6 separate regions of the Homo sapiens genome follow, and all the other regions are linked to region 1. The links come from fine-mapping of genetic effects on gene expression. A gene starts in region 1. Each other region holds a variant in brackets. All regions are shown on one strand. Distances are between the middles of the regions.

Region 1 (5,186 bases):
TGCTCACTGACACCTTCGTTTAGAATTTCAGATACGAAAAATGGATTTCCCAAGGTCACACACGTTATAGGTGAGGAAACTGAGTCTCACACAGATTCAGTGGGCTTTCCCAGGTCACAGAGCTAGTTAGGGATGAATGGGTTTAGCGTTGCTGCTTTTCTGTAACTGTGACTTCCTGCAAGAGCTGCTGGAATGCAGCTGTCTACAGCCACCGGAGGTGGGGAGCAAGGTGACAAGGCAGAGGACAGGAGTGATTTTGTTGCCTTCAGATGAGAACGGGGTCTTCCTAAGACCCTGCATCCCTGAAGCCTCTGCTGGTAACTGTGAGGATAGTCTCTGCCAACAGAGAGGGTGCCCTGAGTTTCAATAGGAGAATTGGCTCCATGGGGTGTAATAACCAAACGAATGTGCGGAATGACAATGATTTAATCCTGTAGCCTTTATTAAAGGCTTGCTTTGTGCTGGGTGAGAAAGGTCTGGGATTGTATTCTTCATTCTCATTTTGAAAGGAACACAAATGCCATCAAGATTTTGATATGGATGGCCACATGTGTCTAAGCCCCGGAAAACCATCCTGAGAGATCAAGACCATCTTGGCCAGGATGGTCTTGAACTCCTGACCTCATGATCCACCCACCTCAGCCTCCCAAAGTGCTGGGATTACAGGCGTGCACCACCACGCCTGGCCTCGTTTTATTCTTATTTATTTATTTATTTATTTATTTATTTTTGAGATGGAATCTCACTCTGTCACCCAGGCTGGAATGCAGTGGTGTAATCTCGGCTCACTGCAACCTCTGCCTCCCAGGTTCCAGCTCTTCTCCTGCCTCAGCCTCCCGAGCAGCTGAGACTACAGACGCACGCCACCACGCCCAGCTAATTTTTGTATTTTTATTAGAGACGGCGTTTCACCATGTTGGCCAGGCTGGTCTCGAACTCCTGAACTCGTGATCCACCCTCCTCGGCTTCCCAAAGGGCTAGGATTATAGGCGTGAGCCACGGTGCCCTGCCTACATTTGGTTTTATAGTCCACCTTACACAGTTCTCTATACATTGTAAATGAGCCAAATTTCCTGAATTGAAAAAGAGAGTCACACAAGAGGCTTGCCTCCACGCACAGACATGTAGTTTTAGATGTCTGCACGTGAAGCTATATCAAAATAAGAATAAACTACTGCTACCAAGAAGTGGGAAAAAAATTTAAAAAGGATAAACTGCTCAGAAAACGAAACAGATTAAACAAAAAATTGTATTAGATGAAATTTTTTTTCATCGAATCTTGCTCCAGACTCTTCTTCTGTTGCTTCAGACCCTTCTTCATCTGAAGAGTCTTGCTCTGTCTCCCAGGCTGGAGTGCAGTGGCACGATCTTGGCCCACTGCAACCTCCGCCTCCCGGGTTCAAGCAATTCTCCTGCCTCAGCCTCCTGAGTAGCTGGGATTACAGGCGCGCACCACCACGCCCAGCTAATTTGTGTATTTTTAGTAGGGACGGGGTTTCACCATGTTGGCCAGGCTGGTCTCGATCTCTTGACCTCGTGATCTGCCCGCTTCGGCCTCCCAAAGTGCTGGGATTACAGGCGTGAGCCACGGCGCCCGGCCTTTCACTTGGTTCTCTATGAAAAAATTAAAGAGAAAATCTGATTGACACTGTGGAGGACACTACACTCCAAAAAAAAAAGTACTATATTTTCTAATATTATCAGTGCTTTTTAATATTTTCTAATATTATCAGTGAAGCTTTTGCCGCTTTTTCAAAATCTGGAAGAAACAAGGCGGTTGATTCCTTTAATTTCAGGAGCATGTAACTTCATTTATAATGACAATGTTTTTGAAAAAATAAATTAAACCGACAGTTTCATTTGTAGGATTGACTTTAATAACACGCCTCTACTGAACAAATGGCGATTAACTGGGGAAAACGGAATTATGGTAACCGAGGTAACGGGGTCGGGGACTCTTTCTCCTTCGCTGCATGCTGGGTGGCGGGGAGAGACCGCTCTGAGGAGGTTTGGTCTGTCGGCCACGCCGTAGGCCGCGGTGCATTCTGGGTCCTGGCAATATGGCGTCCTCCTTGATGGGCTGATGAGATGAGTTTCACTGTAGCTCCAAACCAGAGGGCAAAGCTCCCATGACCCAATAAGCCCACATTGTCCCTTTCCTCCGTGGTTCCGTGTCGCCCGTTTCTCAGGACTCGTTCTCAGGCAGGAGAGAGCCTCGGGGCTGAAGGCCAGGACCAGCCAGGCCGCGCGGACCTGAGGTTGAGGAACCGGGTGCAGGCGAGCACGATGGGCCGGTCGTGGCTCTGGTTGCAGCAGCTCAGACGAGTGCGGGACCCGCAGGGCTGAGAGTGGCTGGAGGAGACCCAGGGCCCTTTGAACCCGATCCCTTGGCCGGAGACCTCAGCCCAGTCGGCCCAGTGGGCGAACCGGCACCAAGAGCGGCCTGCCTGTCTTCGGAACTGCTGAGGCGGTGGAGGCCGAGAGCAGGGTCATCGTGAGGCCTGAAGTCTCTTACGCTTTTGGCAGCTCCCCTCGCAGCCCCTCTGGAAACGTACAGCCTCAGGAGCAGCCAGTGGCTTGGGACCTGGGGTGGTGTGTGTCTGCGGAGCTTCTTGGGCTGCCCCATTTCCTAGCGGCCCCCACCTCCCCACTTCCCGCTCAGAGTTAGAGATAAGGATCTCAGACTTTTGCCTGAGTAAGGGTCTCCGCACTCTTTATCCATTTGGTTTTCGATTTCCCGTTTTTGTTTCTTATTTCACCAATTCTGGTACACGCTAGTTTTTAAGGCTGGAGGTTCTCGAGCGCTTGCTGCCAAGGACTCCCCCACCCCCTCCCCCACTGATGGAGTCCGAAATGCTGCAATCGCCTCTTCTGGGCCTGGGGGAGGAAGATGAGGCTGATCTTACAGACTGGAACCTACCTTTGGCTTTTATGAAAAAGAGGCACTGTGAGAAAATTGAAGGCTCCAAATCCTTAGCTCAGAGCTGGAGGATGAAGGATCGGGTAAGTGGATTCTGAAGGCACCCCTTGAACTTGGTAGTTTCCCCAACAAAGAAAGTTTACAGCCCGAAAAGTGTCCTTGGGAAAGCGCCGACATTTCCCCCTAGCCACACGTTGTAAGTCAACTAGAAAGCAAAAGCCATTTCAGACTGCAGTTTTTGGTTGAAAATGGAAAATGCTGTTTTGGTTAGTCATTATTCACTGGGTAGTGTTAATTCAATTCCAACTAAGTTCTAATTCAGATAATAAAAGTTAAGCAAATTTGAAAATAGAGCATTGCGAGTATTTACATGCTCTTTGGCATACTACTTAGTTCTGTAAACACTTAGAGGAAGGACAACGTGCGATATAATCTTTATACCCACATGATTAGTCTACTTTTTAAAATATCCAAGCTGGGTGAAGTGCAGAAGTCTGATATACTATGCTAGGAAATGAGATTACTGGAAAATGTTCAACTAGTAACAAATTAGTGCAAAGTTATTATAAAGTTACACTGAACTTCATTCTAGTCTTCTAAACAATTTCTCTTGAAGCTAGATTTTCCTCCTTTTATGTAGTGTCCTGTTGCTGTAACTTGGAAACAGGATTTCTTTAATCGTGAGTTAGGGTATGAGGCGTCGAGACTTGGGTGCAGGTTTTAGGGTGTCCGCATGGTGTTTGGAGTGTGGAGAGTGACTCACAAGCAGCTGGTAGGAAAGAAAACAGCCGAATTTTGTTGGATTTGTCCTTCATAAAACACCCATCTATTTCCTGGCCTCAAAAGCAAAAGGGTAGTACTGCTTCTCCTCTATGCACACTTATAATTTGTCTTTTTGTAAGTTATTTTCTCCCTCCAGGCTGCTTTTATTTGCACATTTCAGTGGTATAAAAGAGGAAGTTGGTGTTACAATGTTTGATTTTCTCTAGGCTTATGTATATGTTTATGGAATATTATTGTTTTTTAGTATATGATGTTGAACATATATAAGATTACACTTCTGGGCTGGGCGCGGTGGCTCACGCCTGTAATCTCAGCACTTTGGGAGGCCAAGGCAGGCCTCCCAAAGGCAGGCGGATCACCTGAGGTCAGGAGTTTGAGACCAGCCCGGCCAACATGGTGAAACCCTGTCTGTACTAAAAATACAAAAATTAGCTGGGCTTGGTGGCAGGTGCCCGTAATCCCAGCTACTCGAGAAGCTGAGGCTGGAGAATCGCTTGAACCTGGGAGGCAGAGGTTGCAGTGAGCCGAAATCGCACCATTGCACTCCAGCCTAGGGGACAGAGTGAGACTGTGTCTCAAAAATAAATAAATAAATAAAACTTCTGGTAACTCTAGTCAGTCAGTCAGTAGTAACCAGTTAGCTACTGACTTGGCTTACTTCTAAAAGGTTAGGAAAATTTGTTTCATCCAAAAGCATTTTAAGGAGTTAAATAAGTTAGTCATTGGGGGAGGTTGTATAAATTCTATCTTATGGACATCTTTAGTAGTAACTATATAGTTAAAAGCTTTTGTGGTTGCTATACATATATGAAAAGACTTTTTAAAAAATTCTTTGTGGAGGGCAGTTTTTTTGTTGTTGTTATTTTGAAATGTGGTTCTCTCTGCTGTCCTAAACCTATGTTCCAACAGTTTGAAACTGATTAATGGGTATACGTTTGACCTTTTAATTAAAACATTAATTTGTGAATGATCAACATTCCCTAATAAGCTTTTCACAGGTTGTTAAGAGAAACAAAAGTTCTGTGACTCTTAGTGACTACTGAGATTGCTGCTTAGAAAGGAGCTGGGGAGAAAGTTTGCTGTATCTGTTTTTCGGTGGAGAAAATCAGCAGCTAACATCTTCAGTTGAGTGTGTGGGAGTTTGGAATCTTGTCATCTCTTCCCTCTTCCAAAGGTCAGGTCCTTTGGAATCTTGTCATCTCTTCCCTCAAGGACCGTATCACACATGCTATAGGACAGAAGTTGCAAACTCAAATGATATTGAGTGGGGATGGTAGCATAAGAGAATGAAACAGGCCACATTTAAGAAGAATAATGGCATAGGTTCAAAGATAAAGACAAATGGCAGCTGACATTTGGCACAGTGTGTGTGACAGTTTCTGGAGGGTGGGAACAGGGGCTCCCTGATGCCATAACTGAAGGGGCAACTGGGCTATGGCCAGGCCTCTCTCTTTGTCTTTGAGAAGTCAGCAAACTTTTTTTT
Region 2 (5,186 bases), 130 kb after region 1:
TTGTCCGCATTCGGGTTTGAGCATGAGAATGTTGTTCCCATGATTTCAGAGAAGAACAACTGTTTTAAAGGTCAGATTTTATTCTGTCCAGTATTCTGTAAAGGACGAGTTGAATATCAATGAAAGAAAGAGCTTTAGTAGCTGTGGCAGTGCTGTGGGTCTGCTGCCTCCCGGGTGCTTCTCACACCACAGAGGCTGGAGAGCCAGGTGCCCCTGCAGCCAGGGCTTTGCTCGGGGACACGCTTGCCGGAGGCCAGGCTACCCTAAGTGTGCACCGAGGGAGGTGGTGGGACCTGCCCGTTCTGCTGGCTCAGCAGGAGCAGCCAGGGGCTGGGGGCTTCTGGGGCTTTCTAGGGCGTGGGAATGTGGGTAGGGGGCATTTCCCAGCTGCTGCACAGGCCACTGGTCCTGGCCTGCCTTCCCTGAAAGCTGAGTCCAAATTCTTCTTCTCTTGCCCTTGCACGGAATCTGTAAGTCACAGAACACCCGGAGTGCTGCCCTTGCTGCATTAATAGCACCAGTGGTTTCTGGGGAACTTCCCTGACCTCATCCCTGTTGCATACAGTAGTTCATTCTTTCTTTTTTTTGAGACGGAGTTTCACTCTTGTCGCCCAGGCTGGAGTGCAGTGGCGCGATCTCAGCTCACCGCAACCTCCGCCTCCCAGGTTCAAGCGATTCTCCTGCCTCAGCCTCCCGGGTAGCTGGGATTACAGGCGTGCGCCACCATGCCCGGCTAATTTTGTATTTTTAATAGAGATGGGGTTTTTCCATGTTGGTCAGGCTGTTCTTGAACTCCTGACCTCAGGTGATCCGCCCGCCTTGGCCTCCTGAAGTGCTGGATTACAGGCGTGCGCCACCGCGCCCGGCCCAGTAGTTCACTCTTAAAACGCCTTGTTATGTTTCTCCCCTGCGCTCTGGTGACCCCCAGACCTCTCCATGGAGGGACAATCTTCTGCACCAGGAGCTCTTCCCCTCTGTGGATCATCTCTCTTTCCTCTTCCCTTCCTTTTTTTCCTGATACTTCTGATACTTATTCAAATAATTCATTTTTTTTGTTCTTCAGTCGTCACTTTCATGTTTGATTTCTGAATGCCTCTTTAGGCCTGGCCTCTGTCTTTGCTCAAATTGTGTATTTGAGACAGTCTACAACATCACTCAGGTATCTTTAGATTTGTCTTGTCTGAGTGGAATTCATCCTAAAATTGGAAGCTTTAGATGTACAAGAGATCTGAATAATAGTTTAAAACCATTACCCTCATCTGAAAGATAAGGTGGTGGGGCTGGGACAGAGAAAGTGACTTGCTCAGTGAAATCGACTGCAGACCGGACTCCGGGTTTCTTGGTTTCTTGTTCACTGTAAGGTTTGACCTTAAGCCAGTTTCTTGTCACAACTGTCTCATTTCCGACCATAATACAGAGAACATCACCTTTAAATTGTCCCTCTTTTATCACCATCCACTTAGTCACCAGGTCCTACCCGTCCCTTGTCCGTGTCGGGAATTTGCGCCTTCCCTCTCCTTTCCCACTCCTTGTTCTAATTCTCAGTCTTTATACTTAAGCCTCACTGTCATGCCACTGTTGCCATTAGATTTTCTGCTTCTGACCTTTTTAAGCCTTTTAACCATCCGGAGCGTTGCTGTCAGCACTCGATTTTGACATGACGCCTGCCCGCTGCTTCGTCTTTTTCTATTTGTACCCTATTTTTTTGATGGCACTCGCTACCTCTCACACACTGTGCAGTTTTCGTATTTATTGTGTTTAGGGTCTCTTCCCCACTTGACTGTGAGCTGTAGGAGGCCAGAAATTGTAATCCATTTGGTAACAGATGTACCTACAGCTCCCGGCCAGGTGGTCATCCGCAGTCCACACACGCATTCAGCTCTGGTATACGATAGATGTGTAGTGTAGCAGCACCTGGCGTTTGCCTGTAGACGACACACAGTAGTTGTTGAATTTGTGGGACCCTTGATAATCAGCCCCCCAACTCCCCCCCACATTCATTTCTGATTACTCTGAAGCATAAACCCTCCCCGGTAGCCACAAGGGTCTCCTCGGTCAGGGGAATGGATTCTCCCTGGTCCTAGGGGAGCACACGCTCGTCCTTGTTACCCTCTCTGTGGTGGAGCTGGGTTGCACACTGGAACTTATCCTCGCCGGGGTCAGTGATCCTGGAGGTCGGTTGCCTCCATATTGAGCCCCTAAAGCACCTGGCCCTGGGAAGAGCGTGGGCCCTGGAGCGTGGCCCAGTATTTCCTCTTCTGTTTTGCTGTATCCTGAATTTCTCTTCTTTTTCTTTCATTTCTCAGAGTCCAAGTCACATCCTGCTTCCTCTGGGCTCACCATCTCTGCCGTGTTGCTCCACGGGCCCCTCCTGGCCTTTAGTGCCCTCTGCAGCCTGTGCTCTTCGTCCTTGTGCTGCCCGGCAGCCGATGGCCTTTCCTCCAGGCTCGGCACAGTAGGAAGCGCCAATGTTCCTGATAATCAAATTTATGGGCGTGCGTGTGAGAGAGAGAGAGTGTGTTCCTGCTGAAGCATCTCGGTTAAATCAAAACACTCTGTAATTATTGGGTTCTTCTTTCCTCTTGCCAGAACACTCTCTAATTATTGGTTTCTTTCCTCCTGCTCTTGACATTTGATGTGTCTATTTGCCCTCTCTGTCAATAGTGCTGAGTAGAATACTGCAGGCACAAGTCATGTTTTTGTAACGATTTTCGACAGATTAGCATTCCTTTAAAAAAGAACTTAAGTCGGTTGGGGAAGGGGGTCCACTCATATTACAAGGGGGATACTTTCAAAAATCCTTCAAATAATGGTAAGAGAAGCAGCTTTGCATAGTTGTGAGGGAACCTGGGGCTTACTGGAGAAGTGAGCACACTTCTCCAGGCATGCCATCTGCAGCCTTCCTTTTCTTTCTAGGCTGACC[T/A]ATGGTCTTCTGGTCACTAGTCATTCCATTTGGCAGTAGAATCACCTTCTCAGTTTTGAAATAGGTGTAACCAGTAGGGGAAAAGGATTGTGGTGTGCGTGGTGTTCTTTGCGCACAAAGATGACCGTGGAATTTTTGAAGGAGGCAATTATTGTCATTGTTTAATATATAACTGGAGGCTTAATTTCCAAGTAGCTGTTGTAGCATTAAATGTCCCTGGCTAGGTGCCAGTAGCTATTTCCATTGTACATTGAATCTATTGCTTCTTTTTAAAATACAATGGTTCGTAGGTTGATTTATCTTTATTTTAAAGAAAGGGCTAATATCACAAGGTAAGTTTTTGAGCAGATACTATATTACGAAGTGTTCTGACTCGGATACTGGAGAGGAACAGTGGCCCTGGATACCTCCTCTGTGAAGGTCAGGTTAAGATCTCTTTATGCTCACAGTATAAAGATTAGGTTTGGCTGAGAGTTACAGGGGAGAGGAAATAACAATTGTGTAACTCAAATTAAAGTTTGTTCACTCACATTAAGATTCCCTAGAAGTAGTCATTCCAAGGCTGTTTAGTGCTCCAGCATAGCAAGGCCTCGGGCTCCTCCTATGTTTACTTTGCTGTGCAAAGGTTCTTTTTTTTTTTTTTTTTTTAAATGGTTACCTCATTGTCCAAGATGGCTGCTCAAGCTCCAGCCATTGCATATATGAGGGGACTTCAAAAAGTTCATGCAAAAAAAGAATTAAAAGATAAAAATAAAAAACAAACTTCTCAGCCAGGCGCGGTGGCTCACGCCTGTAGTAATGCCAGCACTTTGGGAGGCCGAGGCGGGCAGATCACGAAGTCAGGAGATCGAGACCATCCTGGCTAACACAGTGAAACCCTGTCTCTACTAAAAACAGAAAAAATTAGCCGGGTGTGGTGACAGGCACCTGTAGTCCCAGCTACTTTGGAGGCTGAGGCAGGAGAATGGCGTGAACTTGGGAGGTGAAGCTTTCAGTGAGCCGAGATCGCGTCACTGCACTCCAGCCTGGGCGACAGAGCGAGACTCTGTCTCAAAAAACAAACAAACAGACTTCTCAACATAAGGTCTAACAAGATCAAGACACTTTTGTAAATGACGATACCACCCATTTAATCTGTCCCTAAAGAACGGAGGGTTCTAGGAGTTTAACTGTGTCTATACAGTCTTTTTACATTATTTTATTTTTTGAGACAGAATCTCATTCTGTCACCCAGGCTGGAGTGCAGTGGTGCAATCTTGGCTCACTGCAACCTCCACCTCCCGGGTTCAAGCGAGTCTCATGCCTCAGCCTCCCACGTAGCTGGGATTATAGGCGTGTGCCACCACGCTTGGCCAATTTTTATATTTTTAGTAGAGATGCGGTTTCACCATGTTGGCCAGATTGGTGTCAAATTCCTGACCTCAGGTGATTGGCCTCCCCAAAGTGCTGGGATTATAGGTGTGAGCCGCCACGCCCAGCCCTCTTTTTACATTATTAACAGAAGGAAAAATACGTTTCCTGTAAAGATTTTTTAAAGATTAGGAAACAAACAAGTCAGAAGGAGCCAAATCAGGACTGTAAGGCAGATTTTTAATGATTGTTTCCCATGAAAACTGTCACAAAGTTCCCCTTGTTGGATGCTTGTTTTGGATGCGAGCAATGAGCAGGAGCACTGTTATCACTGTGGAGGTGGAGGGGGCTCCCTGGTGACACTTTCCTGGGCATTTTTCTGCTCAAGCTTAGGCTTTCTCAAACACTCGTAACAAGCAGCTGTCATCGTTGTTTGGCCTCCAGAAAGCCAACAAGCAAAATGCCTTGAGCATCTCAAAGAGCGGTTGCCGTGACCTTCGCTGTCATCCAGATTGCTCTTGCTTTGATGGAGCCACTTCTTGGTAGCCGGCGCTTTGATTGTGGTTTGTCTTCAGGATCTGCTGGGAAAGTCGTGTTTCATTTCCTGTTTCAATTCTTCAAAGAAATCCTTCAGGGTCTTGACCCCATTTGTTTGAGATTTCTGTCTAAAGCTCTGCTCTGGTCTGCAGCTCATCTGAGTGCAGCATTGGCAGCCATCAAATGGAAAGTTTGCTCAACTGTAATTATTCAGTCAGAATTGTGTAAGCGCGATGGAGAGGTCTGTGATACTGGCTGTTGTTTGTGTTGTTAATTGTCAGTCCTCTTCACTTAGGGCATGAACTAGATGAAGTCTTGCCTTGCAAATTGGTGTGGTTGGTCTGCCACTGAGAGTGTCATCATCTTGGCCCTCCTT
Region 3 (5,186 bases), 220 kb after region 1:
AAATCCTTGGATTAAAGAGGAAATATTTTATATTTTTTATTTTTTTTTACATGTACACACTTACACATTTATTTGACTTCATTGTAGAACTTTGACATTAATCCCAATAACTAATCTCTTTATACATATTGTTTCATCCTGACATCAACCTGAACAGGGAAAATTGACTTATATAAGCACATAGCTACTATAGATGTCTTTTTAGAAACTGATTATTGATATATAGCAGAGAAACCTAAAATCTCTTTAACTAACTTGAAGTCCTGACCGTATGACTTCTTTTGTTATTTTATTTTATTTTATTTTATTTTATTTTATTTTATTTTATTTTATTTTATTTTATTATTATACTTTTAAGTTTTAGGGTACATGTGCACAATGTGCAGGTTACATATGTATACATGTGACATGCTGGTGTGCTGCACCCATTAACTCGTCATTTAGCATTAGGTATATCTCCTAATGCTATCCCTCCCCCCTCCCCCCACCCCACAACAGGCCCAGAGTGTGATGTTCCCCTTCCTGTGTCCATGTGTTCTCATTGTTCAGTTCCCACCTATGAGTGAGAACATGCAGTGTTTGGTTTTTTGTCCTTGCAATAGTTTACTGAGAATGATGATTTCCAATTTCATCCATGTCCCTACAAAGGACATGAACTCATCATTTTTTATGGCCGCATAGTATTCCATGGTGTATATGTGCCACATTTTCTTAATCCAGTCTATCATTGTTGGACATTTGGGTTGGTTCCAAGTCTTTGCTATTGTGAATAGTGCCACAGTAAACATACGTGTGCATGTGTCTTTATAGCAGCATGATTTATAGTCCTTTGAGTATATACCCAGTAATGGGATGGCTGGGTCAAATGGTATTTCTAGTTCTAGATCCCTGAGGAATCGCCACACTGACTTCCACAATGGTTGAACTAGTTTACAGTCCCACCAACAGTGTAAAAGTGTTCCTGTTTCTCCACATCCTCTCCAGCACCTGTTGTTTCCTGACTTTTTAACGATTGCCATTCTAACTGGTGTGAGATGGTATCTCATTGTGGTTTTGATTTGCATTTCTAAAGAGGAAATACTTTAAAACTGATAAAATACTCACAGCCAAATGTTAGTAATAGCACATTTGCTGTTTGTGGGGTGTATGTAGCCAAAGCAGGCGAGGATTTAATACATTTAGTCAGAAAACAAAGATTAAAAAAACAAGAAAAATTAAATGTTTGCCTTAAAGAGCCAGGGGAAAAATGCAATAAACAGATGAAAAACAAAATGAAGAGAGCGAATCTGAAAGATACAGGCAGCCCTACGCTGTCCGTCGCATCTCTGCATCCATAGGGTCTCTGCTTCATTTCCTGGGAGTCCTGCCAGTGTGGGAGGGGGCGTCCAGGGCCTCTGAACACTCTTCTCACAGATTTTCATCTGGGCACTTGCTCTCAGTTCTTCTTTTCAGAGAGCCAGTTGTCTCAGTTCTTGATACTTGCTGACAGCAGGCTTTGGGAGGTGAGTGCTTCATTTTGACTTTGCACCGTCCAGGTCAAAGGCTTCACTTCTCTCACCTCTGCTGAGCCACTTACGCTTGTCCAACTGTTTCTTAACGTTTGGTTGACATTTTACAGTTACAGGGATAACAGTAGCTAGCATTTGTCGAGCGTCACTGGAGCCATTCCACTAATGCACTCATCTAACACCACACGCCTGTAAGGTTTGGACTGGCGTTAGTGCTGCTTTCAGGATGAGGAAGTTCAGGTTGCTTGGAGAGTAGCTGGTGGAGTCAGGATTCAAAGCTGGGTGCCCAGGCTCCCGAACTGACAGCCTCAACTCTGTTGTTCCGCCTCTCTCTCTCCTGCCCAGCGTCTCTCATTTGCCATGATTTCCTTCCTGGGGCTCTCCGTCCTTGTCCTGTTCTTTTTCTCTCGTTATGGAGGAAGTTGAGATCACTATCATCTATAGTCTGTCACGTCTAAATAGAGGTTACCACGACTTACTTAACGTGGTAAAGGCTACATCAGAGCTCTTCAGCAAACCAGCCTAGTGGGGAGACTGGAGACGTCTTCCCTTCGAAGCTGGGAACAAGGCAAAGATTCT[C/T]TCTCGCACTAAAACAGTATTAGAATTCCTGACCCCCAGTAAGATAACTCCATAACCAGCAGAAGGAATGTGAACATTTGTAATTATCTGTTTACAGTAAGGGCCATCTAACATAGTTCACTGATTCTAGCATGTACTTTTTAAATTTTTTTTAAGACGTGATCTTGCTTTGTCACCCAGGCTGGAGTGCAGTGGTGTGAACACGGCCCACCGTAGTCTCAACTTCTCGGGCTCAAGCAATCCCCCCACCTCAGCCCCCCAGGTAACTGGGACTACAGGTGTATGCCACCATTCTGACTAATTTTTGTATCTTTTGTAGAGACTGTGTCACCATGTTGCCCAGGCTGGTCTCGAACTCCTAAGCTCAAGAGATCCTCCCACCTCAGCCTTACAAAGTGCTGGAATTACAAGCATGAGGCACCATGTCTGGTCCTTTTTTAAAAAATAGAGACAGGGTCTCTCCCTTTTACTTAGATGGGAGTGCAGTGACACAGTCATAGCTCACTGCATCCTTGAACTCCTGGGCTCAAGTGATCCTCCTGCTTTAGCCTCCCAAAGTGCTGGAATTCCAGGCATGAGCCACCACGCCTGATCCCAGCATGTGCGTTTTCACACTTAACATATCTGGGGTCCAGAAGCATCTTACAATAAGTAACATACCTGTTTAGTTGGCAGTTCTTTTCCTTTGTTAATAGTGTATAGAAATGCTTGCAAAGGTCCACCTAGAGGTGTGCACTGTACCCTTTCTTACTGCTGTTTGTAAGCTCACTGTTTGTCACTAGGGAAAGAAACAGGCACCATTACTTAACTAGGTGTTCATGTACCGGCAATAATTGATCTCAAAATTTAATGCTATTTGTAGTTTTTAATTAAAAAACTCTCAAATGTATGGTCTAAGTTTTTCTTTAAGTCCAGAAAAAAAAGAATACATTAAACCCTAAGTAAGTAGAAGAAAAGAAATAATAAAGAGAAGAGCAAAAATAAACAGAAGTTGACCCCAAAATTTGTAAAAATTCATGAAACTAGTTGATAGTTTTTGAAAGGTTCATTAAAATTGTCAAAACTTTTTCTAGAGTGCTCAAGAAAAATAGAAGGAAGATACAAATGACTTTCATCAGAAATGAAAGAGGGCACATCCTTACTGATCCTACAGATGTTAAAAGAATAAGGGGCCAGGTGCGGGGGCTCATGCCTATAATCCCAGCACTTTGGGAGGCCGAGGCAGGTGGATCGCTTGAGCCCAGGAGTTCAAGACCAGCCTGGGCAACATAGCAAAACCCCATCTCTACAAAATATAAAAATTACTCGTGCGTGGTGGCATACGCTTGTAGTCCCAGCTACTTGGGAGGCTGAGGTGGGAGGATCACTGGGAGGCATTGAGGCTGTAGTGAGCAGTGCAGTGATCACGTCACTGTGGTCCAGCATAGACCACAGAGTGAGACCCTGTCTCCAAAAATGAAAATTATAAGTAAATAAAAGGAGAATAAGGGAATCATTTTAATCATGAAGGACCATATGCCAGTAAATTCTTCATCTTAGATGCAATGGATAAATTCTGTGAAAGACACAAGTTATCAAATCTGACAGAAGAATAAAAAGAAAATTTGGATAGGATATATCTGTTAAGTAAATTAAATTTCTGGTTAACAACCATTCAAAGACAACCCCGCACCCAGATATCTTTACTAGTGAATTTTACCAAACCTTTAAGATGAACAGAATAGACAGACAACCTTTGTGAAATGTTTAAATATCTGCTGACCATATTAAGTTGCTGTCCCAAGGCTCGGTGTAATTAGTAATGGTAAAAGCTAAGAAAATCTTTACAAGGTTACTGCCTAACTGTTGACTAATTTGACCAAATTTTATGCACCTGGGGCCTTTTACAAATCAGCTTACTTCCCTAAGAAAAAGTGTTACTTGAATTTTTTTTTTATGATTTTATTTTATTTTATTATTTTTGAGACAGAGTCTTGCTGTGTCGCCAGGCTGGAGTGCAGTGGTGCAATCTCAGCTCACTGCAACCTCTGACTCCCTGTTTCAAGTGATTCTCCTGCCTCAGCCTTCTGAGTAGCTGGGATTACAGGCACGTAACACCATGCCTGGCTAATTTTTGTATTTTTAGTAGAGATGGGGTTTCACCATGTTAGCCAGGATGGTCTCGATTTCCAGACCTCGTGATCCGCCCGCCTCGGCCTCCCAAAGTGCTGGGATTACAGGCGTGAGCCACCGCGCCTGACCACGTGAATTTTTTTTTAAGAGCAGCTTGCCTTTATATTTTTGGTTCACGTTGGGACTTACCTTCTAGTCATTTACTGTTGGCTCACATTTCCTCTTCTCCCATGTCTGTCTAACGGGAGAACCATGGAGTGCGTGATCTCACTTGGGGTCTCAGTAGGCCGCTTAGTGAGTCCCAAAGACTTTTGTGAGAGTTTGAATGCATCCGTGTGTAATGTATCTGGAGGACTCAAGGGTAGCAAGTATACACAGAGTATCCTTTTAACATAAAAGGAGCATTCAGAAAAGAATTAAGACTGTGCAGTTCAGCCCACAGTTGGGCTCTCATAGCTACTGAGTTATTCATGTAATCCTCGGAAATCAGCTTGGGTGAAATACTGCACGGGAAAGAGTGCTCAGCCCCGGCCTCACTCCTGCCTGTCCCAGGCCTCCTCACTGTCCGTGTCTCATGGGAAGAAAGTCATTTGTTGTCTCCTGCTTGATGTCATCATCACTATGTTCCAGATTAGCTTCAGGACTTGTTTGAAATCATACCTACTAATCGACTGACTTATATCCCCATCACACGGTGACATATTAACTGCTTATTTGCCTCTTTGTATCTTCTTCTTAAACTTCTGGGCATTTTAGTGGCAGTTTGGCTTCTTGTTTGATTTATGTGCCTAAGCGTGCTCATGCCTCCATATTTAATCAGTGACGTTAGGTCACATTGCATGCAAAAACTGTCAGTGCATTCAGCTCCGTATTTAATAGCAGGCATTCATGACCCTTTTTTAAATAAAAAAGCGATCATTTGATTTGTGCTAAACTGGACAGTATATTGCGGAAGCCATTTTCATCCTCATTTTACTTGTGCTGAGA
Region 4 (5,186 bases), 160 kb after region 1:
GGATGCAGCTGTTTGTACACACATACTTTCTGATATTATGTTGACAGTGACTTACACCACTTCAACCTCAGGCAGGATTCTATCAGTTTCTTTACTACAAATTGATTTGTTTCTTTAATAATTATTGTAATTACTGTCAGTAAAAATCTGAGTATGACTCAGCAATTAGTTGCTGGTAACTGAGTGTGTTGTAATGCTGGGGAAAGGATATAAAACTTGTATTTTGAACAGAAAGGCACACATGTGGGTGAGCAGTGTTTACCACCACAGAATTTACCGTCTACACAGAATTGAGATAGCTGCACATGAATGTATAGTGAGCAGTGTAAGTTAATTCAGAGAAAGAAAAAATTATTTCCTGCTGAAAGGGTTCAAGAAGGAATTTTGTAGGAGAGCTGGGCATTGAACAGGCTCCTCCAGAACATGTGGGTCAGATTGGCCACCGCATGGCTGGGGTCCCCCATGGGCCAGTGATGCCCACCTATGGGAGCAGGTGACACGCTGCCTCCCAGGCCACGCATCGACACCCCTCCTGTCACGCTCCGTGCTTCTCTGAGCACTTCCTCCTTCCCTGTGGCCCTGGGCTCCCTGTGGGCCAGCCCTGTCCTGGCAGAGCCCCCTGTGCGTGTCAACGCACATCCTTCATAGATGAAAATGGACTTGAAGATCCCGCGTTATCAGTTGGTTAGCTCTCTCTCAAGTCTCCTTCGTGACTCTGCTTTATTTTTCGAGCAGCATTCTGGTTCTGAGCGAGGAGACACTGAGAGGGGAGACCACTCTGTGGCTCTAACCCCGCCTCAGACCAGGGCTCCGCACTGTCCTGCAGTGGCACAGGGTTGCTAGCCTTGGATTAGCTTTTGGTTCTCTAATGGGCTTTGCTTGCAGGTACAAAAATTTGGGGGAACCTGGAAAAACTCTTAAATCTCCTCATCTGAAAGATATTCATACATCTACTGATGACTTCCAAAGTACAAGGTCTAGAATACCAAGAGGTTTTATGTTGTCATAAATTAGAGTTTTAATGTATATAATTAGGTGAAACCAAATGTGTATCATATACAACAGAGTAACCGTGTTGCAGGAATTGGGCCTCGTTTTCCTGTTGTTTTCCTCACATCTAATTCTTTTTCTCTGGAAATGCCAGGGAACCTTTCTTTATTTTCTTTATTTTTATTTTTCAGTAGAGACGAGGGATCTGACTATGTTGCCCAGGCTGGTCTTGAACTCCTGGCCTCAAGTGGTCCTTCCACCGTGGCCTCCGAAATGCTGGGATTCCAGGTGTGAGCCCCCGTGTCCGGCAGGGGAACCTTTCTTAAGCATGAATGGTGTGCCCTCCTCAGGGTGTGTCCTCTCTGCTTCCTTTCTCAGTCACATCAGCAGGTGCTTCGTGTGCATCTGTGTGCCCAGCCTGGGCACAGCGGGAGCCCAGGCCTTCCTTCAAACGCAGCCTCCCCTGCACGTTCCAAACACTTACTGGCATTTTTCTTCAAGTGATGATCATGGCATTGGCCTTACTTATTTTAGTTGTTTTTAAAAGAAAGTTTTAAAAGTTTATCAAAGTGATGAACATACACATCACTTTTTAAAAACATAATCCCCACCCAGAGGCAAACCCTTTTAGCTATTTGTTCTAGTGGCATATGTTGGTGCTGCTTTGCACTGACTCATCAACTCAGGGCATCTTCCCTGACTGCCTGGTGTGGCCCCAGCACTTTCACACCCGTTGTTCCCCTCCCCAACCCCAGAAGGTCGTAGATTTACTCTGTCGGTTCTTCTTTGTTGGGAGTTCACCATGAAAAGTACTTTGCAGGAAAAGAGCAATGATAGAACTGGAGTAGCTCCTCGCATGACCCACCTGTGCCCGTTTTCCAGCATCCTGCCACCCAGCCAGGTCTGTCTCCTCCTTGGCCCGTTCTCCTCACTCAGGTTCTCTGGAAGTTGGCACAGTTTTACTAAAATAAAATCAGCATTCATAGCATTAGGACTATGTAAACACTGTTCTCAAGCAAGCCAAGTCATGTGTACTTGGGTCTGATTCTGGACTTTGTGTGTGAGTTCCCTGGGCTGCTGGTCTCCGTGCCCCCAGCCTCGCTGTCTTAATGAGAGGCCCTAGGGGAGCCTGCAGTGTCTGGCAAGGCCAGGTTGCCCTCAGGGCTTTCTGCTGCCATGATTTTCTGGCCCTTCGTCCCTGTTTGTTTTTCCCTGTGACCTTCAGTAGCAGCTTAGCTCCTTGGGGTATTTACTGGGAATGCATTGAATATGTGAATTAAACGAGCGAGAGCTGACATCTTAAGAATGTTGACTCAGCCCACCCAAGCAGGGAGCATCTTCCCATTTGTTCACGTCTTCTGTGTTTTCCAGGAGAGCTTTGAAAATCTTCCATGTCTGTGTTTTGCACATTTCATGTTAAACTTATTCCTATGCATTCAGTCTGCTCTGTGGCTTTCGAGATGGGGTTTTCTTTGCCATGATGTTCCTTTGTTTATTATTTGTGTATATCAAGGCTATTGATTGTTCTCTGTCAGTTTTAGATTCTGCTCATTCAGGGTTAAGGGCCCAGGCAGGAGGCGGAGGGAGGAGCTTTCAGCAGGGCGATTCCTTACTCGGTCTCTTCACTCTTCTGCCATTGCTGCCATGTGTACATTGCAGGCTCCTTCATTTGAGCAAATTCTCTCTTCCATGCTCCAGATGTTTTCAGAAGGACCGCGTACTTCTGAGAAACACTTGGTACCCCAGTGGCAGCTGCGTTTGCCTTGGTGTTGCCATGTGACAGGCATTACTTGTTTATCTCATTGTTGTTCCTAGTAGTTCTCAATGTTTGTTGAATGAATATTTATAACCATCATGTGTGGCAGTTCTTATGTAGTGTTTTGATTTGTTTTTTTGAGACCATCTCACTCTGTCACTCAGGCTGGAGTACAGTGTTGTGATCATGGTTCACTGCAACCTCAACCTCCTGGGCTTAAGTGATCCTTCCACCTCAGCTGGGACTACAGGTGTGTGCCACCACACCTGGCTAATTTTTTTTTTTTTTAATTGTAGAGATGGGGTCTCATTCTGCTGCCCAGGCTGATCTTGAGCTCCCGGGCTCAACCAGTTCTCCCACCTTGGCCTCCTAAGCTGCTGGGATTTTCGGCATGAGCCAGGGTGCCTGGCATTACCTGGTTTTATAGATGGAGAAACTC[A/G]GAGCCATGTGTCCAGGACCACACAGCTATTAACTGCAAACCCAGAGGAAAGGGTAGGGGATGAGTTCCAAGCATTCCCTGGAGTCCGTGGTAAATTTCTTCATTTCTTCTCCTGCAACAGGCCCGGTACAAGCAGAGCCTTGACCCAACTGTGGATGAAGTCAAGAAGCTCTGCACGTCCTTACGTCGCAACGCCAAGGAGGAGCGAGTCCTCTTTCACTACAATGGCCACGGGGTGCCCCGGCCCACAGTCAACGGGGAGGTCTGGGTCTTCAACAAGGTGGGTGTGCCTTCCAGCTTCCTTCCCGTTTCTGCCAAAAGCCATGCCAATTGCGGTGGTCGGAGCAGGTCCTGCCCATCCGTAGCTTCTGTTAAGCCATTGATGTTTACTGTGTTTCAACAAACCCAAATGCCATAACTGAACGGACCAGGTAGTCAGGCACAAGGAGGGGCTGTTTCTGTGGCAGAACGTGTTCATGGAATGACTGCCTTGAAGTGTGGTGCGTGTGGTTTATGTTCCCTCTGTAAGACCAGCAGTTGTTTGTAATTCTCCGAGGACAGACCTCGAGAGTGTCTGCCTTCTAGTTTGAAAAAATTGCACAATTTCTCAATTTCGTTAGAATCTTTCTTTAAGCATCGGTGATTTTCTTAGAAAATAAAGTGTTTTATATATTCTAAAGGGCTAATTCCAAGCTGCCCTGCAGGTGCAGGCTCTGGGCTTCCCTCCTCAAGGTCAGAATCACCAGCCTTTTGCAATTCCGTTGCCCAGGACCAGATGAAGTGCTTGCTCCCCTTCTGTAGCTGTTGCTGTGGGTGGTGGGTGCTGACTGTCATCCCCATCCTCCAGGGTGTGGTGGGTGCTGACTGTTGTCCCCACCCTCCAGGGTGTGGTGGGTGCTGACTGTCTCCTCATCCTCCAGGGTGTGGTGGGTGCTGACTGTTGTCCCCACCCTCCAGGGTGTGGTGGGTGCTGACTGTCTCCCCATCCTCCAGGGTGGGAACCTTGGTCTGTCTCAGAGCAGCCAGCTATGGGTCTCACTGCGCTCTGCGTGATGCATGAAAAGCAGTTCTTGGAGGGTGCGGTGGCCCCATATGTGCCTGAGCGTGTCTATGAGGGCACTGATTTGGAATCCAGCAAATCCGAGTCCCAGTTTCGGTTGTGCTGTCAGCCTCCTGGGCTTCTGCTTCCTTAGTGTGGACACCGCCTCCTGCCATCATAGTGAGGACTCTGACTCCGTTTCTTCACACACTGAACTCTCGGTTCCCGCCTACCGTCCCGGGTTCGCAGCTAGCATTCGGCACAGGTGGTGAAGCAGTGTGGGCCCAGAGCAGAGACCTCGAGGAAGGCTTCTGACCCTGGACACTGAGGAGTAGCCAGCCTCGGAAGTTAGAAAGGTATCCACCCAGCTCCTCCCGCAGGGCACAGGGCAGTGCCATCTCTCCCCGTGTGTATCTGGATACCAGCTTGATTTTAATTCCTTTCGTTAAATATTGAGTAAATTCAAAACGATCGTTGTGAAGGAAGTAGGATTTACAGAAGCAGGATGTAATGAACCACCAGGCGTGCACCACAGGCCCCTGGCGTGTCTTTCTCAGCTGCAGTCTCTCCTTTCCCTGCCCTCCCCTGTGGCGCCTGGCACAGTGAATTTGAATTTGTCCTTCCCTGGCTCTCCTCTGTGGAGCCCCCGGTGTGCTGGCTCTCAGGCACGGCGAATCCGGGAGATCGCTGCTGATACGCTGGGCGGACGCTGGCGCGCTCTTCCGCAGTGCGCTTTGCTCACTTGGTCGGAGGCTCTGCAGATTCATGCCACCGACCCCAGGGGCCTGCAGCCCTGCCTCTTCCCACATTCGCTGTCCCCTGCCGGGACCCCGCCCTTCTCAGTGCCTTCCCTGCAGATGGGCATTGGGCTGGTTCCCATCTTGTTTCTGCTGTAAACCGCGTGAGTGTTTCAGCTGCCCACCTTTCTCTCCAGCACTGGGTGTTGTCACAGGTTTTTTTTA
Region 5 (5,186 bases), 420 kb after region 1:
GCCCCACCTGCACGGCTCTCTGGCCTTGGTTGCAGCCTCCCCACGTGGCTTCAGGCCGTTGTTTTTAGATTAGGATTCTGCCCACCTGCCGCCTTGTGTTGTGAGGCTCCAGGCATGTAGCTCTGCTGACACGTGTGACATTGGATCCCAGAGCTGCCCCGTGGGGCAGTCCTGAAAAAACCACGCAGGGCCCGGGGCAGCGCCACGCCCCTCACGGAGTGCACCATGCATGGGCCCTGCAGAGGACTGGTGGGACCGGCCCGGCATTTCCGGGCCTGAGGTGGGCGTGGGGGTTCCTGAGACCCCGGCAGGAGCTGCCTAAGGATGCGGGTTGGCCTGCGCCCCCCCGCCCCCCGCAGTGTCTGCCCGCACCTGAACCCCTGCTCACCCCTTCTCTCTCCTTGCAGCCTCACCTGGCCGTGGGAAGCAACGACTACTACATCTCCGTGTACTCGGTGGAGAAGCGTGTCAGATAGCGGCGTGACCCGGGCCCACCAGGCCACGGCCGCCTGCTGTACATAGTGAAGCTGTCACTCGCCGGGGCACGGGGCGTCGGCTGCTGCGGCCCCGCAGTGTGAACGTTGGCTGCTGCCTTAGCTGCTGATGACGGCAGGAGGGCCCTGCTACTCGCTTTTGTCTGTCTTCGCTGTCGTGTCTGGAATGTCAGGGAAGGGGAGGGCTCGGGTTGACGGTGGCTTCCCACTGAGCACCAGCATCCAGGTGCACCCCCGCGGCCACGGCGCCTCTGTCCCTCTCCTGTTCTGTGTTTCTCTGAGACGCTGAAAGGGGAAACACCTCACTTTATTTCCATGTAATCAGAGCATTAGCTGCAGAAAAACCCCCCGACAGAGCCCTGGCGGAGAGGCAGGCGCTGGGGCTCCTACGGGTCCCTGGGGCAGCTGTCCCCATCAGGCCAAGAGCGAGCGAGAGGCGCTGCCCCAGCCAGGCCCACCACCTCTCACAGTCAGTGCACGCAAGCAGGGACATTTCCTAGCCAGCTGGGGGACACTGGAAATTCGGGAAACCAAGAGAGAGGAAGAAGGAGACGCCCCTCCAACTGGCGGGTGTGAAGGAAGCCGCCCAGGGGTCCGGGCTGTCCTTGGCCGCTGGCAGCATCACTGAGCAGGAAGCGCACAGCCCACCCTCCCCGCACCTCCAGGTCTCTGGACTCCAGTTTTGGCCCCTCTCACACAGAGCTGTCAGCAGGGGCCGCTGTGGCGGTGCACAGGGGAGGCAGGTCCTTGGCGAGGTAGCCCCTGCCTTAATCCACGGGGCTCCTTTCCCTCCGAAGGGCTGCTCTTCCCCACAGGCGCGGGGACAGCAGCCCGACCTGTGGTCTCCATGCCTGTGCCCTCACACAGGTGTAGCACACGCATGTGCAGATGGCACCACGGCCGGCACCTGGGGGCACACACATGCAGGCGGCGTGGTCTCCCTGCTCTGTCCCCACACGTTCCTCACATACAGGCAAGAGGCACTGCCGGGTCCCGGACGGCTCCGGGTGACACCAGCCCCGTCTCCAGCCTTGAGCCGCCCATGCTGATGCGACCTCGGCTGACAGCTGGGCCTGTGGTGCAGACAGGAGCTGTGTGGACAGTCCCGCCCAGGAGGGGCCGCAGGGCGTGTATGAGCAGTTTTGCAAACAGAACACAACCACAATGATGGTATTTTGAAAAGTGTTCTTTCCGTGTTCGTCGGGAATCAGGATTATTGAGAGGTGAAGGAGCCAGGTGGCTTCATTCTGGCGGTGAGAGGCCCACGACCACGGGAGTGAGAGCTGGTGTGGCGAGGCCCGGCTCTCCTGCGGTGTGGCTGGTGGCCTGCCGTGGCCAAGAGCATCTTCTGGGTGGATGGAACCCTGCCTGGTCACATTTGGCCAGAGACACACCTGGCCCTCAGGGGGCTGAGCTGGAGACTGAGCTGGGGCTGGCCGGGACGTGACAAGGCAGGACAGAGGCGGCCCCTCCGCTGCTCCTTTTTGGAATGCGAGCTCCCACCAGAAGAAGGTTCCGGCACGAATCCCATCCCCACGTCTGGGCCGAGAAAGCAGCCCGGGTCCGGAAGGTGTAGAGAGTCCCGGCCTCACTCAGCTCACAGGGCGTGCCAGGCGGCAACACCAGAATCTTCCAGAAGCCCAGCTCCACCCGCACACGCAGCTTCCCATCCAGTCCTTCAACTCAATTCTTACCCAACACGCGTTTC[T/C]GTTTGTTTTGAGACAAAATCACCACCTGTCAAAAGGCAGGTGGCTCCAGAGGGGTCAAGACCCCCCCCCGCCCCCGCTCCACCCTGGAGCCCACCCCCATGGGCACCGCGTGCCGCCTGCACGTGGGCTGTCTTCACAGGTCTGATGTGAAAATTCAATCACGACGTTAACCGGCTCGAGAGAGCGCCGGCCTAGAGGCTCATTATCTATTTATTTTACCAAACGCGAATTGAGACGGACTTTGACAAAACACGAAATGGTAATGTGAAGCTAAGAGCAGAGAGTGACCAACAGTAAACAACACGCGCAGACTCCGCGGCTGGCGGCTGTGTCTTTAAGGAAACTGCCCACCCCACCTCAGGGGGGCATCGGTCAGAGCAGAGCTCTGGGGGGTGGGGGGACGTTGCCCGGGTCCCCCCTGCTGTCCCCAGGGCCACCAGCAGCTCTGCGTCCCGGGTGCTCTCCAGGCAGGCACTGTGGCCACAGGGGGCCTGGCACGTCGAGTGTGCAAAGGTCTCGGTCCTTTTCTCCCAGGCAGTGCCCCCAGCCCTGTGGCGCAGACCCCACATCAGGGAGCGTACTGTGTGGCAAGAGCCATCTTGTGACGTAGGCCAGACACGTGTCTTTCTCTTTAAAATGACGGTTATCCTCTCACGGTTAGAGGCCCCATTCAAGTCTGCATTGAAATCTGGGCCACGTCAGAGTTCCTGGGGGAGAAGCCGCTTCCCCGCTCCTCCCCACTTCTGGAGGCCCCCACTCTCCTTGGCTCGTGGCCCCTTCCTCCAGTTCAGGGCCTCTGACCCACGCCCACCGTCACCACTTCTCATGCAGGCCAGAAGTGTTTCCAGGCCTAGGGGCCGTACCCACCTCGGGCTGTGTGGGTCCTTAGCCCTAATCACATCTGCACATCCCTCTGGCCAACTCTTTTTGGGTTTGCTTTTTGTTTTGAGATGGAATCGCACGCTGTCACCCAGGCTGGAGTGCAGTGGCACGATCTTGGCTCACCTCAACCTCCACCTCCTGGGTTCAAGCGATTCTCCTGTCTCAGCCTCTCAAGTAACTGGGATTACAGGTCTGTACCACCACACCCAGCTAATTTTTATATTTTTGGTGGAGACGGGGTTTCGCCATGTTGGCCAGGCTGGTTTCGAACTTTTGACCTCAGGTGATCCACCTGCCTCAGCCTCCCAGCGTGAGCCACCACGCCTGTCCCCGTCTGGCCAATTCTTGAAAGGCTCCCGTTTCCAGATCACACTCTGCTCTGCAGGTCATGGCCTGTCCCTTGAGGTTTTTCCCAAGCAGCAAGGTCCGTGCAGGGATTGGGAGCCAGGGGGAATGTTGTGGAAGCCACAGCAGAGGCAACGGGCCTGGGCATGGTCCTGCGGGGCGAGTGGGAGGCAAGGGTCCGTGGGGATGGTCATGTCAGCCACACTGCACCACCTCAGGGGCCTGACTTCTGGAGAGCTTGGGAACAGGCTCTTGTCCCCCCGGCCCCTCTCACCTGCCGACCAGAAATTGGGTCTCGGGCACTGAGTAGCTTGCCCAAAGCCCTGCCTGTTGGGTGGTGGCAGGGACTGGGGTCCTAACCCCACCCCAAGGCCATGTGCGGAGACCTTTACTCCACCACTTGGGCTGGGGGGTGTGTTGGGGCTGGGGGAGCCACGCACTCGGGACCTACAGGTGCTGCTTGTGCAAGCCCCGCCCCGCCCTAGAGCAGGCCTGCAGGAGTGGCAGCTCGGGACTCGGATGCACCAGGGCGATATGTGGAGCAACCAGCCCCGCTGCGCACACAGAGGGGGCGCCTGCTACCCGCTGGGCCCCCACCCACCACGGCCTCATCACCAGGGCTCGTGGCTCCTTGAGGACGTCCCCTCTCACTCAGTGCTGCACTGAATGGCCCTTCGGGGCTTCCCTCGTGTTCATGTCATTCCTTTTTCCAGGATAGATTCTGGCACCCACTGCAGCCTGGGCCCTCCTCACTGAGCCCGGCTCGCCTGCCTCCCTCCTCCACTTTTTTTTTTTTTTTTTGACAGGGTCTCACTGTCACCCAGGCTGGAGTGCAGGGGTGTGATCATGGCCACTGCAGCTTTGACCTAGGCTCAAGCAATCCTCCCACCTCAGCCTCCTGAGTAGCTGGGACCACAGGCGTGCACCACTACACTCGGCTGATTTTTGTTTACTTTTTGTAGAGACAGGACTCAGTCTCACTATGTGGCTCAGGCTGGCTTTGAAGACTCGGTCTCACTTTGTTGCCCAGGCTGGCTTCGAACTCCTGGATTCAGGGGATCCTGCTGCCTCGGCTTCCCAAAGCTCTGGGATTGCAGGCGTGAGCCCCACGCTGGCCCCTCCTCCACTTTTAAGGACCTTGTGATTACACTGGGCCCCCCGGGATGCTCCAGGGTCACCACCCTAGTTTAAAGTCAGCTGATCCAACCTTATTTCATCTGCAACCTGGATCCCCCGAGCCAGGTAGTCACAGGCTCCCACTAGGATGTGGACATCGATAGGGAACACTATGCTGCCAACCAACCCCTGTCTACAAGCCAAAGAGCATCCCACCAGGTAGAGCCCACGAACACTCAGGGGTCTTGGGCAGGAGGTGGGTGGACACAGGGCGGGAAGGAGATGCTCAGTGGGGTTGGGGGAAGCACCGGCCGCGATGGGCCTCCCAGATCTCAGGGCCAAGGCATGGGAAGCTGGCACCATGTCCGGGTCCTTGGGGCTGTCGGTAAACAAGTGGATCCCCCATGACACAGCAGCTGCTCCCAAGCCCCAGCCGGGGCCGGAACACAGGGCACGTTGCCATGGAATCCTGGAATCCTGCGCTGAATTGCAGTTTGTTTCAGGCAAGGACGCCCGGCACTCACGCAGCTGTGCCAGGCGGGCTCCTGTTGAGAGAGTCATATTTTTCCCATTAGCACCAGTTTTTCTGTCACCGAGATGAGTACAAATCGAGTTCTTGTAAACATGGGGATGGGCACGC
Region 6 (5,186 bases), 150 kb after region 1:
GGGGCATTTTTGATTTTGGATATGACTTTGCCTAAAAATGGCACCTTAAGGTGTTTTAAACATTTATCAAACGGTTTCATATGTATGGAGTATGTCTGTGCAGCATTCTTAAAGTGACAGGACTACCTTATGAAGTCAGTAAATCCTTTCATCTCCCCAGACAGCCAGAAGCTAGTCAGCAGATGAACACATTCACTTGTATGTTCCCCTTGGCAACATTATTCCTAGAGAGGTTGCATCTGCATCTTGGAGTCCGCATGATAAATCATTTATGTACTCACAGAAACCATGCACTCCCCCGTGGGAAGAGTTCTAGGTGTAGCAGGGGCGGAGGACGCCACCTGCTCCCTGACATCCGTCTTTCCGAAGCCATCGCTGGAGCCCTCTGCTGAGTGTGGGCAGTGAGGCCTCGTCTTACGCATGTGGTCAGAGGAGATAATGTGGCTAGAAGTGCTTTGTAAGCGCCAAGGATTGCTGTTATGAGGAATTTACTAGATTTCAGGCTTTCATCAGATAGTTAGCGAGGAAGCGCAAAAGCACAGCATGGTCTCCATGTTTGCTGACCTGCAGCGAAAAGTCAGAAAGCTAATTGGAGGCCATTCATAGGCTGATTCTACCTTACACCATCATTATACTTTTTGTCTATAAGACTGGAGAAGATCTTTCTGAGACATATCACTATCAGTGTTTTACGCGTATGAAACATATTTTTCTTTCCTTCTTTATGTTCATTTTTAAAATTTTTGATCAGTGCCCTCAAGCATTCTCCTATTCAATAGAAAACATATTTTTCTAGGTATGATAATCTTTCAGATTTTTGGTATGTGTACCTTTGCTAAAAACACATTTAATATTTCTACCTGTCTGGACACCTTTTAAAAATGTCTGGCTGCACCTTGGAGAAACGCTTCATGCAAGCAGATTCTAATTAAAGTAGGAAACTTTACTTTACCATTAAGTTATATGTAAAAGCATTCTAGGGGAGAGTCTTTTAATCATTGAAACATTTTCAAACGTGTTTGCTCATTTGCTTCTTTATTTGTTTTTATGGCTTATTCATTTGTTTATTTTTAAACTTTTTATTATGAAAAATTTCAACATATACCCATCATCTATCTTCAGTCATTTTCAGCTGCCAGTTCCAGTCTCCTTTCATCTGTGCCCCCACCCAGTCCCCCCTTCCCACTCCCCTGGCTGATTAGGAAGCAAATCCCAGACTTCATGTAATTTCACCTGTCAATATTTCTGAAAGAAATATTTACTTTCTCTAAAGATAAGTATGCTTCTAAACACACACACACACATACACACACACACAATGTTTGTTTGAATCAGGATGCAAGTGAGATGAATGTATTGTGAGTTACTTCATCTATTCTGTTAATCCATGTAATTAATCCAAAAGTCAGTCCCTCACCCCAGCACTCTCTGTGCACCTGTCTGCCTGTCTCTTTCTGCAGTTGATTGGTTGAAGAAACTGGATCATGTAGCCTGTAGAATTTATCGTGGTCTCGATCTCGTCAGTGGCTTCTCCCCCCTTGCCCTGGGTGAGCCACACTCACCTCTGCTCCTTGGATTTCCTCTCGGTGGTGGACACAGCCGGGCTCCCCTAGATTCTGGTTCAGTCAGGGAATGTTTCATGTGTGGTGCTGTGTCCTTACTTTAGGATATCTGATAGTCCCTCTGTGATATTAGCAGCTATTGATGATCATTGTCTGGATCTATTTATTAGAGATTATGAAAAGATGGTGTTATTGTTTCATTCCTTTTTTTGCAACAGGGGATCTCACTTGGCCACCCAGGCTGGAGTGCAGTGGCGCAAACATGGCTCACTGGAGCCTCAAATTCTCGGGCCCAAGTGATCCTCCCACCTGAGACTTCCAAGTAGCTGGGACCACAGGCACATGACACTATGCCTTGCTAATTTTTAAATGTCTTGTAGAAACAGGGTTTTGCTATGTTGCCCAGACTGGTTTTTAATTCCTGGCCTCAAGCAATCTTCCTGCCTCAGCTTCCCAAAGTGCTGGGGTTACAGATACGAGCCACTGTGCTTAGCTGTCCTTATTTGTTAACTGGAGTATCTCTATATAAAGAAACCCTCTCATCAATTATTTGGATAGCTCAAGGTACAGTCATAGAGGAAAGCCAGCATCAATACTTACTTTCCTTTATTAACCAGTTTTCAAAATCGTGTGTGGGCTTCTCTCAAAGGTGACTAGTAAGGGGTGTGTGGGTGTGATATGTGTGTGTGCATGTCGTGTGTGTGTGCATGCACGTGTGTGCATGCATAGGTATGTGTGTGGTGTGGTGTGTGTGGCCACCCTGTTGAAGGCACTACCTACTGTATTCGTTTCTCACTGC[A/T]TCTCTCAAAGGTGACTAGTGTGGGGGTGTGTGTGGATGTGAGTGATGTGTGTGTGTGCACGCATGTCAGTGTGTGCGCATAGGTGTGTGTGGTGTGGCGTGTGTGGCCACCCTATTGAATGCATGACTTACTCTATTCGTTCTTCACCGATGTCCACGTCGTTCCATCTTTGTGTTGGCCCCTGAGCCTTGTGATGCAGTTCTCGCGGTCCTCAATTGCTTCATTTTGATATGGTATGACAAGCCAGCATGTTCTGTGCCATTTTGTACTTCTTCTACCCTAGGCCTGAAATCAGCCACGTGTCTGTCTCCAGGGAGTCTTGGTTTCCTTCCATGGGAAGTGGTATGGAGAGCTTAATCTGGGCTCCAGGGCTGCTCATTGACCCTTGTTCAGCCCCCTTTCTCTATGGGTGTTTCAAAGATAAAATACGAAGGCGCTCTTACACATCCAGGTTCAGGTCTGCAAGGTCTGCTTACTCTCATGGGTCCTACAGCTGTATCTGCTTCTTTCCACATGGAGTGCTCAGATTGTTCATGAACACCAACGTAATTACCCATTCTCTTATCCTGCACCACACCTGGCAGTTTCAGAAAGCAACACCAGCACTGCCACTGACGCGGTTACTGAGAGCCGCTGCCGAGGCATAGCCGCTGCTGAGGCACTCGCCCTTCCTTCTCAGGTTAGGCACAGATGTCGAGTGACATTACCCTGTATTTTTATTTATTTATTTTTGAGACAGGCTCTCACTGTGGCCCAGGCTGGAGTACAGTAGCAGAATCATAGTTCACTGCAGCCTCAACCTCCTGGGCTCAAGCCATCCTCCCACCTCAGCCTCTCAAGTAGCCAAGACTATAGGTGCACGCCACCATGTCTGGCTACGTTATGTTATGTTATGTTATGTTATGTTATGTTATGTTATGTTATGTTATGTTATTTTTTTGAGATGGAGTCTTACTCTGTTATCCAGGCTGGAGCGCAGTGGCATGATCTCGGCTCACCGCAACCTCCACCTCCCAGGTTCAAGCGATTCTCCTGCCTCAGCCTCCCAAGTAGCTGGGATTACAGGCACATGCCACCATGCCCAGCTAATTTTGTATTTTCAGTAGAGATGGGGTTTCTCCATGTTGGTCAGGCTGGTCTTGAACTCCTGACCTCAGGTGATCCACCTGCCTTGGCCTCCCAAAGTGCTAGGATTACAGGCGTGAGCCACCGTGCCTGGCCTAATTTATTTATTTATATTTTTAGTAGTGATGAAGTCTTCCTATGTTGCCCAGGCTGGTCTTGAACTCCTGGCCTCAAGTGATCCTCCTGCCTCAGCCTCCCAAAGTGTTAGGATTATAGGCATGAGCCACTGTGCCTGGCTGGATTACTTTTTAAAAAAATTAATTTTGCTTTGTAGTTATGTAAAATATTTCATGAGTCCAAAGTTAAATACACAAAATGAAGTTTATTGAAAGGAGCCTGGCTGCTCTTCCTGTCCTGGTGAGCCTATTTTATCTTTTCTTCTGTAGGTCACCACTGAAATGTTTTAATAATATGTGTACCACATGTGATGACACGTATGCGTAACCTTGGGTACATTTATATACGCACACACGCACACAGTGTTTTCTCTTTAGGGAAGTGCTGTATGTTGTACATGGTTTCTTCTACCTTGCTTCTTGTTGCTGTATTAGACTGGAATCCACGTGTCCTCATTGGAATCAAAGCTTCATTGTTTCCTCTAAAGCAGAGTTTCTCCAGCTTGGCCCGATTGGCATTTGGATCAGCTAATTCATGATTGTGGTGGTCGTGTGCTCATGTGCTGTGCGGACAGTCACAGGATGTGTAGCAGGTCCCCAGGCCATTGCCATCAGATGCCAGCAGGGCCCACTTCTCCCAGCAGTGCCGACCGAGCCTGTCTGCAGACAACACCAGTGCCCCCGAGGGCAGAGTTGCTCCCAGCGGAGATGGTGTTTCTCGGGTTCATTGGGGGGATTCTGAGCACCCATTTCAGAAGTGGATTTGGCCCCATCTGGAAGCAATAGCTTTTCTTTTTGGACTTTGAATAATAAACCAGCTATTCTAGTTCTTGTCTGCCTCTTCTGCAAATTAAGGAAGGAAGGAAGAATTGTTACTGAATAATACATAAAGGAAAGAGTCGATGATTTTACAAATTTCACGTAACTCTGCCCTTACTGGGCAGACACGTGTTGAGAACATTACGAGTTACTGTGACCTTGTAGTCCCTTTGGGTTCGGTGTACGCAATTTCCTACTCTCAGCATCTGCCAGCCCAGACTCTGGCAGACTTATGCCAGCCCTGGGTGCTGTAGGGTCAGCCACCCCCTTCCACGCAGGGTGGGCGTCCAGATGGTGCTGTGGGAAACAGCGTTTTGCCAGGGGCCAGAGAGCTGACTCAGATAGTGACCTGGAAAACAGACTGTGGATCAGGTGGGCACGGGCCTGGAACAGGGTCCCTGAAACACCCAGCAAGAGGCTGGGGAATGTCTGGAGAGCCCGGCATGGTCCGGAGCGTCCACGCAGCCAGCAGCTCACATCCTCTTGCTCCTGGCGGCCGATGCTCTGCGCAGAAACGGGCTTGGTCTGAACGGAGAGGGACATTGTGAACTTGAAATGAAATCTGACAAGAAATTAGAAATTTCTTCAGAAAGTAAAGAGCGCTGTCAAGAATGCGAGCTGAAGATTTGCGTTTACAGCTGTAGAGCAAATACAGGCGGCTCTGACATCTCAGCTTTTGTTTGCCACTGCTGCAGCCTCAGGTGCCTCATCTGGGGCTTCATTCAGAGTGGGTGGGGAGGCGACAGGTCGAGGCAGTTGCCCCG

Which allele goes with the higher level. Alleles are on the strand shown, and positions count from the first base shown. SD is a standard deviation of normalised expression in the study named. Not every link is listed here.
As copies of C replace T in region 5, the expression in monocytes after interferon gamma of the gene that starts at base 2,050 in region 1 goes up (small effect, 0.33 SD a copy in Fairfax 2014).
In carriers of allele T in region 6, the expression in unexposed skin of the gene that starts at base 2,050 in region 1 tends to be lower than with A alone (moderate effect, 0.48 SD a copy in GTEx).

Evidence for each region. PIP is the estimated chance that this variant, and not a neighbour inherited with it, causes the effect. A credible set is the group of variants that fine-mapping cannot tell apart.
Region 2: its variant is the best candidate, but not a certain one, in a credible set for the expression of RPTOR in blood mononuclear cells (TOPMed, PIP 0.59).
Region 3: its variant is the best candidate, but not a certain one, in a credible set for the expression of RPTOR in whole blood (INTERVAL, PIP 0.88).
Region 4: its variant is the best candidate, but not a certain one, in a credible set for the expression of RPTOR in whole blood (TOPMed, PIP 0.76).
Region 5: its variant is the best candidate, but not a certain one, in a credible set for the expression of RPTOR in monocytes after interferon gamma (Fairfax 2014, PIP 0.66).
Region 6: its variant is the best candidate, but not a certain one, in a credible set for the expression of RPTOR in unexposed skin (GTEx, PIP 0.70).

The regions. Positions count from the first base shown.
Region 1 is chr17:80,542,789-80,547,974 of GRCh38, forward strand. RPTOR (regulatory associated protein of MTOR complex 1) reads left to right here and starts at 2,050. Exons shown (of 34, transcript NM_020761.3): 1 at 2,050-3,003. The coding sequence starts at 2,842. RefSeq lists enhancers at 1,744-2,570, 1,904-2,263, 2,544-2,643, 2,571-3,397.
Region 2 is chr17:80,668,815-80,674,000 of GRCh38, forward strand. The region is part of intron 3 of RPTOR (regulatory associated protein of MTOR complex 1); the gene reads left to right. Among named protein-coding and RNA genes, the nearest start is that of RPTOR, 130 kb to the left of the region's middle. The variant T/A (reference allele first, on the strand shown) is at 2,924.
Region 3 is chr17:80,763,834-80,769,019 of GRCh38, forward strand. The region is part of intron 6 of RPTOR (regulatory associated protein of MTOR complex 1); the gene reads left to right. Among named protein-coding and RNA genes, the nearest start is that of RPTOR, 220 kb to the left of the region's middle. The variant C/T (reference allele first, on the strand shown) is at 2,088.
Region 4 is chr17:80,704,535-80,709,720 of GRCh38, forward strand. It overlaps RPTOR (regulatory associated protein of MTOR complex 1), which reads left to right. Exons shown (of 34, transcript NM_020761.3): 4 at 3,307-3,465. Among named protein-coding and RNA genes, the nearest start is that of RPTOR, 160 kb to the left of the region's middle. RefSeq lists an enhancer at 461-580. The variant A/G (reference allele first, on the strand shown) is at 3,186.
Region 5 is chr17:80,963,855-80,969,040 of GRCh38, forward strand. It overlaps RPTOR (regulatory associated protein of MTOR complex 1), which reads left to right. Exons shown (of 34, transcript NM_020761.3): 34 at 408-2,514. The coding sequence ends at 476. It overlaps LOC400627 (a long non-coding RNA gene), which reads right to left. Exons shown (of 2, transcript NR_148968.1): 2 at 2,385-5,091. Among named protein-coding and RNA genes, the nearest start is that of CHMP6, 25 kb to the right of the region's middle. RefSeq lists enhancers at 329-878, 1,429-1,978. The variant T/C (reference allele first, on the strand shown) is at 2,203.
Region 6 is chr17:80,689,038-80,694,223 of GRCh38, forward strand. All of the region lies in intron 3 of RPTOR (regulatory associated protein of MTOR complex 1), which reads left to right. Among named protein-coding and RNA genes, the nearest start is that of RPTOR, 150 kb to the left of the region's middle. RefSeq lists enhancers at 4,668-5,186, 5,136-5,186. The variant A/T (reference allele first, on the strand shown) is at 2,362.